2 separate regions of the Homo sapiens genome follow, and region 1 is linked to region 2. Evidence: fine-mapped expression QTL. A gene starts in region 2. The other region holds a variant in brackets. All regions are shown on one strand. Distances are between the middles of the regions. Region 1 overlaps LOC102723765 (a long non-coding RNA gene). Region 2 holds the start of ASRGL1 (asparaginase and isoaspartyl peptidase 1).

Region 1 (5,375 bases), 69 kb before region 2:
CAGGGGGCTCGGCGTTGGCAGGATTTCTGGTGCTTGAGGTCACCTGTCAGCCTGTCTCTTGTCATTGGCTATCCGCCGTGCCATCTGCTCCTGTGTGTCCTTGGCACTGTTCGCATGTCTCCAGCTCGCTGGCTTTCTCTGCCACCTTGGAGCCACTCCTGGGTGCACAGGAGTCTTACTGCTCCCACGCTGTGCTGGGGCCTGGGAAGACTGCTGTGGCCTACCTGCCTCCGTGTAGCACACACACCCATTTCTTCTTCTTCTTCTCCTTCTCCTTCTTCAGACAGAGACTCACTCTGTCACCTAGGCTGGACTGCAGTGGTGCCAAATTGGCTCACTGCAACCTCCGCCTCCCGGGTTCAAGCGATTCTCCTGCCTCAGTCTCCCGAGTAGCTGGGATTACAGGCACACGCCACCATGCCTGGCTAATTTTTGTATTTTTAGTAGAGATGGGGTTTCACCATGTTGGCCAGGCTGGTCTCGAACTCCTGACCTCAAGTGATCCACCTGCCTCAGCCTCCCAAATTGTTGGGATTACAGGCGTGAGCTGCCATACCCAGCCTGTTCTTGGAGGGCTCTTCTCTCTGTTCTCAGACTCTTCAAACCCACTCAGGAGCTCTGCCACCTCACTAAGGCTTGGTCTCTCTGGTAGCTTACCTGGAGAATTGGACACCTGGGGAGGATCATTTTTTAATGATCCTCCTGAGTAGCTGGGACCACAGGCAAGTGCCACCATGCCCTGCTATTTAAAAAAAATTTTTCAGCCTGACCAACATAGTGAAACCCTATCTCTACTAAAAATACAAAACTTAGCCGGGTGTGGTGGCGGGTGCCTGTGATCCCAGCTACTCAGGAGGCTGAGGCAGGAGAATGGCGTGAACCCGGGAGGCGGAGCTTGCAGTGAGCTGAGATCGCGCCACTGCACTCCAGCCTGGGCGACAGAGCGAGACTCTGTCTCGAAAAAAAAATTTTTTTTTTGTGGAGATGGGGGTCCCACTATGTTGCCCAGGTTGGTTTTGAACTCCTGAACTCCAGCAATCCTCCTGCTTTGGCCTCCCAAGGTGCTGGGATTACAGTCATGAGCACTGTGCCTGGCTGATTTATCCAATAGTTTTTATATTTACCTAACCAGATTTTGATATTTTGGTTATCATCTGATATAGTAATATTTTATGTAAATTATTGAGTAACGCCAGGTGTGGTGACTCACTCCTGTAATCCCAGCAATTTGGGAAGCCGAGGCGGGTGGATCACCTGATGTCAGGAGTTCAAGACCAGCCTGACCAACATGGAGAAACCCTGTCTCTACTAAAAATACAAAATTAGCCGGACATGGTGGCGCATGTCTGTAGTCCCAGCTACTTGGGAGGCTGAGGCAGGAGAATCGCTTGAACCCAGGAGGTGGAGGTTGTGGTGAGCTGAGATCATGCCATTGCACTCCAGCCTGGGCAACAACAGGGAGACTCTGTCTCAAACACAAAAACAAAAACAAACAAACAAAAATTCTCGAGTACCCAATAAGTAAATTTTTTTGAAACCAAAATGTCTATAAAATCTATAAAAGGTAAAATTTAGGCAACTACTAAATGGTACCATTGATGTGATGTTTTACTTTTTTGAGTTGTTCTTTAGTTCTAAAACAAATACCATTGGGAAGGAATATTTCAACTGTAAAGATATTAAAATACAGTAAAATATTTCCTGTATGAACTAAAATGTTCTCTTAACAAATATTATATCATACACTCTATCATTATTTTGAATGTGTTTTTTTTTTTTTTTTGAGACGGAGTCTCGCTCTGTCCCGCAGGCTGGAGTGCAGCGGCGCGATCTCAGCTCACTGCAGGCTCTGCCTCCCGGGTGCCCACCACCACGCCTGGCTAATTTTTTTGTATTTTTAGTAGAGACGGGGTTTCACCGTGTTAGCCAGGATGGTCTCGATCTCCTGACCTCGTCATCCGCCCGTCTTGGCCTCCCAAAGTGCTGGGATTATAGGCATGAGCCACCACGCCCGGCCCATTATTTTGAATGTTAAGCCCACATAGAAACTCTAAGTGGTCTCATAGAAGAACAGAATTGGAGTCCAGGTGCGGTGGCGCACGCCTGTAATCCCAGCACTCTGGGAGGCTAAGGCGGGTGGGTCACTTGAGGTCAGGAGTTCGAGACCAGCCTGACCAACATAGCGAAATCCCGTCTCTACTAAAATTACAAAAATTAGCTGGGTGTGGTGGTGCACACCTGTAGTCCCAGCTTTTTGGGAGGCTGAGGCAGGAGAATTGCTTGAACCTGGGAGGCAAATGTTGCAGTGAGCTGAGATCATGCCACTAAACTCCAGCCTGGGTGACAGAGGGAGACTCCGTCTCAAAAAAGAAAAAAAAATAAAAAGGGACACAATTGAAGCAACTCAAGTTCTACTTCTTGGTCTTTGCAGTCACTGTGCTTTTGCTGCTTATGTTGAATCTGTTTACACACAGGCATGGGTAGCACCCAGGAGGAGTTGAGATGAGAACCAACTCTGAAGCCGCCTCCAAGGATTTTAGACCTTCATGAATTTACTCATGAATTGAGTTAGCTGGGCAAAAAAATGAGTAGGCAAAATGATGGCATTGTACCCTATAAATATATAGAATTATTACTTGTCAATATAAACAAATAAATCTGTATTTTTAAAAGACAAATGAACCTGTTGGGGATCACCCGTATAACTGGGAGTTCTGAGAAATAATTTCCATGTCAAATATAATGTCTACTTAAAAATAAGTAATAAACATGTTAATTTCTAGCTTGCATATATTATTATTATTATTTTGAGACAGGGTCTTGCTCGTCGCCTAGGCTGGAGTGCAGTGGCGTGATCATGGTTCACTGCAGCCTCAACCTCCAGGGCTCAAGCAATCCTCCCACCTCAGCCTCCCTAGTTGCCGGGACTACGGGCATGTGCCACCATGCCTGGCTTTTTTTTTTTTTTTTTGGTAGAGACAGCGTTTTACCATGTTGCCCAGGCTGGTCTCAAACTCCTGGGGTCAAGCAATCCTCCCGCTTCAGCCTCCCAAAGTGCTGGGATTACAGGTGTGAGCCACTGCTCCCAGCCTTATCATTGTTTTTAAAGCCTTTTACAGAAGGTCACTGGTCTCAGCAGGGACCAACACTTAGTAACTCTTGCTCTTTACCTCCTGGCCACCCTGGGAATCCTTTTCTTGTCTGGGGGTGGGGTGGGGGTTCTGGAAGCCTG[A/G]CTCTTACACAAAACCAGCACCTGCAGGTCTTTCCATTCCTCCAAAGGACTGGGCTTTTGAACTGTACAGCCAGGAAAAGACTCCCTCTTCCTCTATCCTTTCCCTGGGGAAAGCAGCCTTTCCCTGGGGCTGCCTTGGCTTCCAGAATCAGGGGAAGTTCTAAGAGAAGAAAGGAAAATAAGGCCAGGCCTGGTGGCTCATGCCTGTAACCACAGCACATTGGGAGGGCTAGGCGGGAGGATCACCTGAGGTCAGGAGTTCAAGACCAGCCTGACCAACATAATGAAATCCCATCTCTACCAAAAATACACAAAAAATTAGCCGGGCATGGTGGCGGGCGCCTGTAATCCTAGCTACTTGGGAGGCTGAGGCAGGAGAATCACCTGAACCCGGGAGGTGGAGGTTGCAGTGAGCTGAGACTGTGTCACTGCACTCCAACCTGGGCAACAAGAGCGAGTCGACTCCATCTCAGAAGAAAGAAAAAAAAAAAAAAGAAAAAGAAAGGAAAATAAGAGGAAAGATACTATGGGTTAATGTTTCCAAAATTTGCCAGTGCAAGAGGAACAGCTTGGATGGTCTCGGCAGCTGCCTCTGGCTTGCCCCAAATCTGAACTCCTGGGAATTCTATCCTCTAGTCACTGGCCTGGGAGAAAGTAGGGAAGAGCTACTCCACCCTCTGCTCTGGAGAAGAGATCTCAGGCCTAGAGAGGAGCTGTAATTGATGGGAAGTCGCATAGAGAGTTAGGGGCAGAGCCAGAAATGGTATCAGGTCCTAGGGTCCTCACTCTAGGAGTCTTCCTGCTGTTCTGAGCTGCAGAGCATAGCTCTGTCCCTGCCGTTTATTGCTCAGCTGTAAATGCACGCAACATCTTACCAGCAAACACAGTTCAATGCATTTATGCTCTGAACTTGATGCAGCTGTGGGGCTTATAAAAGCTGAAAAACAAGCACTACTGGCTGCTATTTGCTTTCCTCTAAAATCACTTGTGGGTCTTTCCTGGGTGGATTCATAATGCCAGAAAATATGATAACTGGAAAACATGCATCCCCCAGCCCCAAGGGCTGGAAATGGAGATGCCCTGGTCAGGCAAGGGGCAAGTGTAAGCAACCTGTTCCCCAGGGTACTGGGAGGGGCCCGGGCCTGGGTGAGGGGGCTACCTCTGGCTCAGCAGGGGATTCATGTCCAAGGTCAAGGTTGCCATCCACAGTGGCCCCATGAAGTCCGTTCTCCCGTAGCAACCACGGTGATCTTTTTTTGTTTGTTTGTTTGTTTTTTTTTTTTTTTGAGACGGAGTCTCGCTCTGTCACCCAGGCTGGAGTGCAGTGACACCATCTCGGCTCACTGCAAGCTCCGCCTCCCAGGTTCATGCCATTCTCCTGCCTCAGCCTCCTGAGTAGCTGGGACTACAGGCGCCCGCCACCACACTCGGCTAATTTTTTGTATTTTTAGCAGAGACGGGGTTTCACCTTGTTAGCCAGGATGGTCTCGATCTCCTGACCTCATGATCCGCCCGCCTTGGCCTCCCAAAGTGCTGGGATTATAGGCGTGAGCCACCGTGCCCAGCCAGTGATCTTTTAAAAATGTAAATCAGGTCATGTCCCTTCTCTGTGTAAACTCTTCCTGGCTCCCCATAACACTTAGAATAAAACTCCAGACCTCATGTGACCTGTTCCCACCTGTCTCTCCAGCCTCATTTTGTGTCACTACCGCCATATCCCTCTAGCACCCTGTGGCCACACTGGCCTCCTTACCTCCAGGGTAAGGGACACCCTCAGAGCACCTCCGGCCTTCACTCGTTTCCCCTCTGCCTGCCCTGCCTCCTCCAGTTTATTTCCTGATTGCACCTTGTTCTCATCATAGGTAAGTCTTCTCTGATTACCGTGGGGCACCCTCCCCCACCCCCTGGGATCCCAGGGTCTGGCTTTCTTCCCTTCATCACCTTTGTCACCGTCTGAAATGATTTTGCTTCTGTGTTTCCTTGTGTAATTATCTACCTCTCCCTCTAGAATGTAAGCTGCATGCTCACCTTCGATTCTCCAGGGCCCAGCTACCTGGTAGGTGCTTATTAAATATTTATTGAATGGATGATGGGCTCTGAGCCTTTCACCCTACAGCCGCATTTCCAGGTGTTCTGGGAGCAT
Region 2 (5,375 bases):
TTTTCAGCTCTACTCTTTTCTTCCTCAATATGCGGAATAGAGGACATTTGAAAGATGAGAGGGCAGACGTTGAGAAGGAAGGCCTCTGGATACAGAGCAAAAAAATGAGAACTAGCTGCTCCAATTCCCTAATCTGTGCTTCCCAATGCATGCAGATGACAAATTGTTAGAATAAGAGATGGTCGGAAACCAGAATGACCCATTTCAAATGAAGGTCCTGTGTAAATAAGTGAGGGTTTGACAGCCCAGGGGGTGCTGAGTGCTAAGAAGCGTAAGGTTTAACAAGTCACCCACAGAAAGAGCTGGCTGCTCCCTCTGCTGGCAAAGTCAGTGCCTATCTGGTAAATTCTGGCTCTACAAATGGAGCCATGAAAGCACACTATTAGGTCTCATTTTAAATTCAGATGAACTTAATTTTATTTTCAGAGACAGAGTCTCACTCTGTCACCCAGGCTGGAGTGCAGTGGCGCAGTCTTGGCTCATTGCAGCCTTGACCTCCTGGGGCTCAAGGAATCTTCCTACCTCAGCTTCCTGAGTAGCGGCGGCTACAGGCTTGTGCCACCACGCTCAGCTGATTTTTGTATTTTTTTTTTTTTGTAGAGATGGGGTTTTGCCATGTTGCCTAGCCTGGCATTGAACTCCTGAGCTCAAGTGATCCGCCCACCTCAGCTTTCCAAAGTGCTGGGATTACAGGCGTGAGCCACTGCACCGGTCTCAGGAAGAATTACACAATTTTTCACAAGTGTTAAAGAGTGCTGCGTAAAGGGGACAGAACAAGAGTAAATATTTGATGATTAATTAAGATTTCCTGAAATTCTTTTCCCTGACAGATGGGTGGTATAATTCCAGGAAGTATTTCAATCTCTAGCCTAGATCTTAGGTTTGCCATTTTAAAACAAAGAGATGAATGTCTTCCACCAAGTTAATCTGTTTATGCCTTAGTCTGATCTGAGAAATGAGGATAATAATTATGCCTAACTTATACCTAACTCATTTAACTCAACTGAGTTTAAGTGATTAACTCATAAGTGAATCATTTAATGTTCATTATGAGTTAACTTGAGTTAGTTTAACACAAGTTAACCAACTTAAGAGAGTTACATGATCAACTCATTTAATGTTCAGATTCAATAAATCAAGCAAATTTCTTAGACCACTGCCTGATACATGGTAGATACTCATATTAGCTATAATGATTAGTATTCCAAAAAAGGGTGGACTGAGTGAAAGAAGCGAAACACAAAGGAATACACTCTGCACTCCAAAGTTAACCTGAAAACTTTGGAACCTTGTCGGGGGAGGTAGGACATGCCTCATTATTCCCTCCTCCCTTTTGGAATTCAGGCCCAGCTGACCAGCACTAACATTAAAACAGATCTTAAGACTGACAAAGCAGACTTTGTAGCAATAAGATACCAAATTCCAGCGGGACTCTAGTATGACATCACATGACAGATAGCAAGCCCTGAAAGTGAAGTATTTTACCCCAAATTACGTTTCTTCGCCATATCTTGAAATAGTCCTGCAAAGCTAAAGCTATCTCTTGTGGGGAAAATCTACATTCTGAAGAGAATCCCCTTCCTTTTCTAGGCCTTTTTCCTGATTCAGGAGAGAATCAACTCTGATAAGAAACATTTACAATTTATTCTCTCAATAGACTGCTACCTGGAGACTTCCTCTGCCTAAGGGAAATCTTGGTCTCCTCAACCTCTTATCTTAATGCAGACATTCCCTTCTTTTTTCAGTTTTTTTTTTTTTTTTTGAGATAGTCTCGCTCTGTCGCCCAGGCTGGAGTGATCTCGGCTCACTGCAACCTCTGCCTCTCAGGTTCAAGCTATTCTCCTGCCTCGGCCTCCCGAGTAGCTGGGGTTACAGGCTCCTAGCACCACGCCTGGCTTTTTTTTTTTTTCTTTTGTATTTTTAGTAGAGGTGGCTTTTCACCTGTTAGCCAGGCTGGTCTCGAACTCCTGACCTCAGGTGATCCACCCGCCTTGGCCTCCCAAAGTGCTGGGATTACAGGCGTGAGCCACCGTGCTAAACCGCCTTCTATTAATTCTATCTGCAGCCACAAGTCCTTATATAATCCAGACATTCCCTTCTGTGGATTCCAGGTGTTTGGACAAAACTTTAAATCAATTGTTCATCAGAAAATCTTTGAATCTTAACTATGACCTGGAAACCACTCCCCCTCCCCCAGTAGTCTCACCTCTCCAGATGGAACCAATGTATGTCTTGTATGTACTGATTGACATCTTATGTCTCTCCAGAAGCACACATTCTCAGGATTTCCCAAGAGCTGTATCAGAGGCCATTGGTCACTCATATTTGCCTCAGTATAAATCTCTACAAATATTTTAGCGTTTGACTCTTTTCAGCACAGGTAGAAAAATTAAATATTGTTTCTTTTTTACATACTTAGTTTCACCCCAAAGCTCATTAGATTCCCTAACACTATGTAGGTTCTATTTATTCTGAAGAAGGAGCTTGACCTGACTCACATTATTTACTAGCTGAAAGGCACATTTACCTGCGTTGAACTCGGGATCGTCTTCCAGGGCGACGACAGCTCCCTCTACGGCATCCACGGCGCTCCCGCCCTCCCGGAGGATGCCGTAGCCCACGGTGGCGGCTCTGACCATGCCCTGGTGCACTCGCTCCTTCCGATCCTTGGAGATGGGACCGGCTCCGCCGCCGTGGACCACTACGATGGGATTCATGTCGGCGGATCCTAGGCAGCAGGAAGGCGAAAGCGTCGTCCAAAGCCAGCCCAAGGAAGCCGCGCGGGTACAAGGTCCTCGGGAGACCCTGTGGGGACAATGCCCAGTCTCTGTTCTGAACGGCTGGGTTCGCAGCTGGGGGTGGGTAGGGGCGGCTCGGTCGAGCTTGGTACGAAAAGCCCAGGGGCCCGGCGCCCTCCCGCGTTCCTCTCCGCCCCCGGCCCGGACCTGCTGGGGGTCTCAGTTTCCCCGGGGACGTTAACCCGCGCCCACCGCCGCCCGCCTCCAAGCCCCGGCGCCGAAGGAGGATGTCTATTTCGCCTTCGGGAAAATGTCTATTTTCGTTTATTTCATTCGCCCTCCCGCGTCTCGGGCGGCTGCTCCGGGAGGGCCGCCGACTTACCCAGGGCACCGCAGGACGCGGACGCCGAGACCTCAAGCTGGGTCGAGCCAGCCCCGCAGCCGCCCGGTACCGCCGCTCCCCGACGCCGGCTCGAAACCGCTCAGCCCGCAACCGCTCTGGTCACAACGGTTCTGCGCCTGCGCACGAGGGCGGGACCGCCGCACGGCCCAGTTCCCATAAAGCCCCGAAGGCCGGCTGGCGCGCACCTGTCTCACTCCTCTCAAGAGTCTACGCTCTTGGCCGGCCCGAGCTTCCTGGTGGCACGCGGGGAACCTCCTGCTCCTGACCAGGCTAGGGGCTGGGTGGTTGGGTTGGTGGCGAGAAGCGTGAAGTGGCATGCCACGATTTTGTAATTGCAGATTGAAAAGCAACGCTAGGCTGTGCGCAGTGGCTCATGCCTTGTAATCCCAGCACTTTGAGAGGCCGAGGCGGACGGATCACCTGAGGTCGGGAGTTCGAGACCAGCCTGACCAACACGGAGAAACCCTGTCCCTACTAAAAACACAAAATTAGCTGGGCGTGGTGGCGCATGCCTGTAATCCCAGCTACTCTGGAGGCTAAGGCACGAGAATCGTTTGAACCTGGGAGGCGGAGGTTGCGGTGAGTGGAAATCGCGCCATTGCACTCCAGCCTGGGCAACAAGAGTGAAACTCCGAATCAAAAGAAAAAAAAATTATACTGGGACAATGGGCATAAACAGGGACAGATCCAGGCAAACTGTGATTGATCTCCTGTGGATAGGAGAGTCCTTTCCCTTCTTGTTTACCCACAACTGATAACATATTTTACCACTCTTGGGAATTCCCTTTACTCCTGTTTTACCTTCGTTTCCTGCCTTAAGGCCCAGTTTAAATGAACCCCTCCTGCAAAGCCTTCTCCCTGGCACCCCACTAAGGATCAGTCATTCCCTTTCTAGTGACCTATTGTTAGAGATTACCACAAATTTATTGGCTTCAAACAACACACATTATCTTACAGTTCTGGTGGTCAGAAATTCAAACTGGGTCTGCAGGGTTGAGTTCCTTCGGGAAGCTCCAGAAGAGAATCTGTCTTTTCTTGCTTCTACAAGCTGCCTGTATCCTTGGCTCATGGCCTCATCCTCCATTGCCAAAGCCAACAGCCTAGCATCTTTAACTCTCTCTCCCTCTGGCCTGTTTCTGCTGCTACGTCACTTCTCTCTCTGTCACCATCATCACGATTTTCTTTTCTGACTCTGACTCTCCTGCCTCCTTCTTAAAGGAAGTCCCTTGGGATGACATTGGGCCCACCCAGATAACCCAGGATAATCTCCCTTTCTTACAATTTCTATTCTCATCTGCAAAGTCCCTTTTGCCATGTGAGGAGTGTTCACAGGTGGAGATTCGGATGTGACACCTTTGAGGGCCGTTATTCTGTCTCCCACACTCACCTCTTGGAAGAGGGTTATTTTAGCACGTCTCAACTGGTCGTGAGCCTAGTTGTGTCATCATAATACAGCTCACCATCATTTGGTTTCAGCTATTTATAGGAACCTGAACCCTACCCTATGCCTAGCCCTAACTCAAACCCCATCTCTACTGTTTTTCCTGATTGATCTGGAATTCAGTGATCTGGCTGAGGCTGGGGAAGGTGGCTGGTGGCCCAAGCAGGTAGAATGTTGGTTTCCATTTGATCCTCCCATCTCAGCCTCATGCGTTTATCTACTTCTCTGATGGGCTTCGTATTCCCCATCCCAATCCAAAGTCTCTTAGATAAATTCTCTAGAAAATAAACTTCTGGTCTTTGAGGAGGAAAGAGGAAGCATCTTTTTGTCCGGCTCTGTGGGATAGGAGAAGGAATCTGGCTAACTCCTCTGTAGACGATGTTCCATCAACAATCATTTTATGGATTAAGGATTGTATTCAACTGTCCCTGACGAAACGTGACCACAGTGGTTTAACCAGATAACTGTTGATTTGAAAACAACAATAACAACAACAACAACAACAACAACAACAAGACATCTAGTGGTTGCTGCCCAGGCTGGTGCAGCAGCTCCAAGGTGACACAGATGTCCCATCTCCTTCTCTTCCCTTCAGCATGTGGCTTTCACATTTATGGTGCTCCTAGGCACCTTGATCACTATTGGGGCAGAAGGAATGGGGAAGGGCAAAGGGAAGAAGGCTTTTGCCAGCTCCCCTTTGTTCCTTTAATTCAGGAAAGCTCTCTAGCTTTCCTAGAAGTCCTCCAAGTGGACTTTTATTGGCCAGAACTGGATTGGGGGGCTGCCCCTAGTG

The links. PIP is the estimated chance that this variant, and not a neighbour inherited with it, causes the effect. A credible set is the group of variants that fine-mapping cannot tell apart.
Region 1: its variant is the best candidate, but not a certain one, in a credible set for the expression of ASRGL1 in whole blood (TOPMed, PIP 0.72).

What each region holds. Positions count from the first base shown.
Region 1 is chr11:62,404,780-62,410,154 of GRCh38, reverse strand. LOC102723765 (a long non-coding RNA gene) reads left to right here. Exons shown (of 4, transcript XR_007062699.1): 4 at 1-59. Among named protein-coding and RNA genes, the nearest start is that of SCGB1A1, 12 kb to the left of the region's middle. The variant A/G (reference allele first, on the strand shown) is at 3,233.
Region 2 is chr11:62,335,320-62,340,694 of GRCh38, reverse strand. It overlaps ASRGL1 (asparaginase and isoaspartyl peptidase 1), which reads right to left and starts at 3,247. Exons shown (of 7, transcript NM_001083926.2): 1 at 3,121-3,247; 2 at 2,528-2,805. The coding sequence starts at 2,717. RefSeq lists an enhancer at 2,667-3,336.